2 separate regions of the Homo sapiens genome follow, and region 1 is linked to region 2. A link means that fine-mapping ties the variant in region 2 to the expression of a gene that starts in the linked region. Tissue or cell type: whole blood. Region 2 holds a variant in brackets; the other region holds the start of a gene. All regions are shown on one strand. Distances are from middle to middle.

What was found. PIP is the estimated chance that this variant, and not a neighbour inherited with it, causes the effect.
Region 1: MLX starts here. The variant in region 2 is fine-mapped to the expression of MLX in whole blood (INTERVAL, PIP above 0.99).

Annotation. Positions count from the first base shown.
Region 1 is chr17:42,565,705-42,568,204 of GRCh38, forward strand. It overlaps MLX (MAX dimerization protein MLX), which reads left to right and starts at 1,396. Exons shown (of 8, transcript NM_198204.2): 1 at 1,396-1,462; 2 at 1,915-1,951. The coding sequence starts at 1,421. COASY (Coenzyme A synthase) reads left to right here. Exons shown (of 9, transcript NM_025233.7): 8 at 1-101; 9 at 202-573. The coding sequence ends at 264. RefSeq lists enhancers at 1-154, 155-661, 868-917, 1,675-2,182, 2,058-2,147 and a silencer at 1,258-1,657.
Region 2 is chr17:42,204,008-42,206,764 of GRCh38, forward strand. All of the region lies in intron 16 of STAT5B (signal transducer and activator of transcription 5B), which reads right to left. Among named protein-coding and RNA genes, the nearest start is that of GHDC, 11 kb to the left of the region's middle. The variant T/TA (reference allele first, on the strand shown) is at 1,344.

The DNA of each region.
Region 1 (2,500 bases), 360 kb after region 2:
CTCAAAGCCGGCTGCAGAGCCAGATGAGCGGGCAGCAGCTTGTGGAACAGAGCCACGTGGTGCTCAGCACCTTGTGGGAGCCGCATATCACCCAACGCCAGGTTGGTGCCCAGGGCAAGGCCGGGTTGTGGGGAAGGAGTCTCCAGTGGGTACTGCCTGACCCTGCCCTCTCTTCCTCCCAACATCCTGGCCTGTCTGAAGGTGGAGAAAGCCTGGGCCCTCTTGCAGAAGCGCATTCCCAAGACTCATCAGGCCCTCGACTGAAAAGTTCTCAGTGGGGCCAGACTGGCTCCTGGAGCTGACAAGCGACCCCGTGGTGAGGAGAAATGGGGGCCTTGATGCTCACCCTGGTTCAGGCCCAGAGGTCCAAGCTATACTGTGCAGGACATGGCCAGGCCTGGTGGACACAGGAAGCCTACCCAACACGCTGGTATTTGGCCAACACTGAGGATGTGGTTCATGGGGGAGCAGTCCCCTCCCCACTCTTGCCCATGGGTGACTCTTACCCACAGCTGACTAGGGCCAGCGCAAATACTGGAACCTGTAACAGAATTAAAGGTGAATGTTCTGAGATGTTGCTTGTATGGTGTCTGCTTCCTGTTCCAATGCCCCTAAGTATCTTTGGGATCCTTAAGCCACAAGTGCAGGGCCCAGGCCTGAGCTGGAAGCCTGGGCAATGCAGTGGTTAAGAGAATGGCCTTTGAGGCTAGCCAGAGGCGAGCTTTGGCCCTCCCACTGACCAGCTGTGTTCTTCTGAGTAAGGTGTAGACTTTCTAGGTACTGCCGTGTTTTATTGTTTTTGTTTTGTTTTTAATATGAGAGGCCGCATAACCTAGCTAGCAGGTTCTTTGCAAGGGTTCATTCCACATGCATCCTGCCAGACACTGGGCTGGGTGTTGGAAGATCAGCCTTCCGCGCGCCAGGCGGGGCCTCTGCCCTCACAGAGCTTGCAGCCTGGTGGGGTCGGACGATGTGGCTGGGGGCTTCTCTGCCCGGTTCCTGACACACCGGCCAGCAGTGCAGGTCCGGTGAGCGCGGGGAGGCCGCCCTCAGGGTAACGTGGGGAGCCGGCCGGCCGGACAGTGCGCGTGCACACACTATCTGCGGCGGTGTGCTGACAAGCCAATTGAGGGGACTCCATCTTACAAAACGCGCTTCATGTCGCCGCCATTCCACTGCCTAACCCGGGGAGGGCAGGCACGGCGGGGAGCAGTCTCGAAGGAGGCTGGCGCCAGGCCAAGCGCCGGGCCTTGACGGCTGGAACCGTGGAGTAAAGTCTTTGGGCTGCGCATGCGCGATGCTTCGCCCTGCCCCACCTCTCGGTCGCGGATTGGCGGGCGCGGGTCACGTGGGCACGCCACCCGCTTCCTCGCCGCAGGGGGCCCGCCCGCTGGCCCGTTTCCGGTCCGGTGGGTACAAGATGACGGAGCCGGGCGCCTCTCCCGAGGACCCTTGGGTCAAGGCAAGCCCCGTGGGCGCGCACGCCGGCGAGGGGAGGGCGGGTCGGGCTCGTGCACGTAGGGGGGCCGGAAGACGAGGGGCTTCCCTCCTGTCCCCAAAGTCCCCCACGCTCTCCGTGCCCCGGGGCTGCAGAGAAGACAGCTCTCACCCCGCGTGTGCCAAGGTGGGGAGACAAACGAGGCGTGTGCGCGCGAGTCGGGGGAACGGGGCACTGGGGTGGAGTAGGGGCGGAAGGGATCATACACAGGGGAGGCACTCGCACGCCCTAGCCTGTGCCAGTCTCGGGGGACTCATTAAGCTGCCCGCGCACCCCGGGCTGTGTGTGTGCAAGCGCGCAGGGTGACAGAGGCGCCTTCCCGGAATGGGGGGCGCGCTGTGCGTGCCTGCAGTGGAAGGGGCGCCTCCCCCTAGGGGCGGAGGTCTGACGGGCCCTTCCCGTGCTCTGTGCCGCAGGTGGAGTATGCCTACAGCGACAACAGCCTGGACCCCGGTGAGTAGCTGCCCCATCTTAAGCTCTAGAGGGACACTCCCGCCCAGGCTCTCTAGATTCTTGTGGCGTTGCCAACCACGCCTGAGCACAGTCCACTCTCCCTGAGCAGAGTTCCTGGCTTGAGACAGCAGGAGCTGAAGGACAAGGGCAGAAAACAACTGAGGGTGACACCTAGTTCCCTCTGCTCTGGAACAGGGAAGTGGTGGAACTGATCACTCACCACTCAGTGGAGCAGCTGATCACTCACACCCTCATCACGTCCACATGCCCGTTTGTGAGCCAGGGGGGTATCATGCAGGCCTATGGAGCAGTGTAGACACTAGGGAGCAGAGCACTGCAGCGTGGTCTGGCAGGAAGTGGGGGGCCCAGTATGGTTGGCTTTGGGTTGAAGGGAAGAGGTCAGCATTTAAGAAAGCCATTGTGTGGCCGGGCGCGGTGGCTCACCCCTGTAATCCCAGCACTTTGGGAGGCCGAGGCAGGCGGATCACGAGGTCAGGAGACCGAGACCATCCTGGCTAACACGGTGAAACCCCGTCTCCACTAAAAAAT
Region 2 (2,757 bases):
TGATCTGATGATGTCTGAGGTTCCTCTAACTCTGAGTGTCTAGTCTTTCAGGAAAGGGAAGGCTACTTTTCCCAGCACCTGCACGCTCCTTCACGCCTGGTGTTTCTGCATTTGGGGTACTTTGATGTCACTAGTCCCAGTGAGTGCTGTTGGTGCCAAGAATGCGATGTGTCCTTTGCTTCCCACAGAATCCCCACTGGGATGTGGCAGATGAGCAGATAAACCTGCACGTGATCTGGTCAACCACAGTTACCTTTTCAGAAGGCTGACTATGGAAATCCAGGTAAGCAGGTGGTAAGAATGTGATTATCTGACATGGGAGAATGAAGTCTTGTTTCTGGGTACGTGAATATGGGAATCAGTACAAAGTTAATTATACTAGGCAAGGACGATCACACTATGATTATAGGACAAGGAGCTTGTCATTTAAGTAGCCCAAGAGGGTGAAACGCTGCAGGGTTCACCAATTGCTTATTACCCTAATCTTCTTCTAGGGCTTCAAGTGTCAGGAGCGACCTTTTCATAACATGTTTTTTGTGCTTTACAGTGTACAGAGTATTTTATAGATTGGCTAAGAAGTTAAAAACAAAGAAATGCTGCCAGAAATAGGATTTTATTTTTTTCTGAGACAGGGTCTTACTCTGTCACATAGGCTACAGTGCAATGGCACAATCATAGCTCATTGCAGCCTCAAATTCCTGGGCTCAACCAATCTTCCAGCCTCTGCCTTCTGAGTAGCTGGGACTACAGGCATGCGCCACCAAGCGCAGCTAACTTTTTCTTTTTTGTAGAGATGGAGTCTCACTATGTTGCCCAGGCTGGTCTCAAACTCCTAGGCTCAAGCAATCCTTCCTCCTCCGCCTTCTAATGTGCTGGAATTACAGGCATGAGCCACTGTGCCCAGGCCCAAATTATAAGTATCTTAAATAACCAACATGTAACTCACCATACAGTGGGATTGTATGCAGTCATCAAAATGAGGTTGGAAGATTACATTTACTGAGCTGTAACTCTGCATAGGATATATTTCTTTTTTTTGAGGCAGAGTCTCGCTCTGTTGCCCAGGCTGGAGTGCAGTGGTGTGATCTTGGCTCACTGCAACCTCCGCCTCCCGGGTTCAAGTGATTCTCTTGCCTCAGCCTCCTGAGTAGGTGGGATTACAGGTACCTGCCACCATGCCCGGCTAATTTTTGTATGTTTTTTAGTAGAGATGGGGTTTCACCATGTTGGCCAGGCTGGTCTCAAACTCCTGACCTCAAGTGATCCACCTGCCTTGGCCTCCCAAAGTGTTGGGATTACAGGCATGAGCCACCATGCCCAGCTACCTAGGATATATTTCCAAG[T/TA]AAAAAAAAAAAGTCACAAAAAATTACATATGATATGGTCTAGACTCCAACCTTTCACCCTGAACTCCAAGGCTGGAGTGTCCTGACCTCAGTTCCTACCACTTATCTTCCCTGCTCAAGAGGCTCCAGCCTCCCTGGCCCTCCTGAGGCTTTCCAGACATGGCCATTCTCAACCCAGGATTTTTGTACTTGTTCTCTTGGCATACAATGTTTTTCTCTAGATCTTTGTATGGCTAGCTTCCTCACTTCATTCAGGTCTTTTCAAACATCACATCCTGGCTAGGTAGAGTGGCTCATGCCTATAATCCCAGAACCTTGGGGGACTGAGGAAGGAACATTGCTTGAGCCCAGGAATTTGAGACCAGTCTGGGAAACACAGCAAGACCCCATATCTATAAAAATAAAATAATTAACCAGGATTGGTGGTGCATGCCTGTAGTCCCAACTATGTGGGAGGCTGAGGTGGGAGGATCCCTTGAGTCTAGCAGTTTGAGACTGCAGTGAGCAATGTACTCCAGCCTGGGCAACAAAGTGAGACCCCATCTCAAACAAACAAACAAACAAAACAACAACAAAAAAAACAAACATGTCCTCAGAGAAACCCTCCTTGACCACTCTAGTAAAATAACACCTCCACTCTCCTCCCTGCCACTTCTCTATCCCTCTACCTTGCTTTATTTGTCTTCAGGGCGCCCATCACTAAATTAATATATTTGTGTTTTGTTTGTTTTTGAGATGGAGTCTCGCTCTGTCACCAGACTGGAATGCAGTGGCATAGTCTCGGCTCACTGCAACTTCTGCCTCCCTGGTTCAAGCAATTCTCCTGCCTCCCTGGTTCAAGCGATTCTCCTGCCTCAGTCTCCCAAGTAGCTGGAATTACAGGCGCCCACCACCACACCTGACTACTTTTTGTATTTTTAGTAGAGATGGGGTTTCACCATGTTGGCCAGGCTGGTTTCAAACTCCTGACCTCAGGTGATATGCCTGCCTCGGCCTCCCAAAAGTCTGGGATTACAGGCATGAGCCACCGCGCCCGGCCTGAATATGTTTCCTTGTTTATGGTCTTCGTTCTGCTGCTAGATAACCTCCACACAGGAAGTTCAAGCAACGGGTGATGCAATGTATAATACATATCTATATATAGAGTGCAAGAATAGTCACTAAATCATCCATAGAGGTTAATCTCTAGATGAGAGATGTTGTGTGGTATCTGTTTTTTTGTTTTCTTTTCTTTTGTTTTTGAGACAGAGTTTCACTCTTGTTGCCCAGGCTGGAGTGCAATGGCACGATTTCAGCTCACCACAACTTCCACCTCTCGGGTTCAAGCAATTCTCCTGCCTCAGCCTTCCCGAGTAGCTGGGATTACAGGCATGCGCCACCATGCCAGGCTAATTTTGTATTTTCAGTAGAGGTG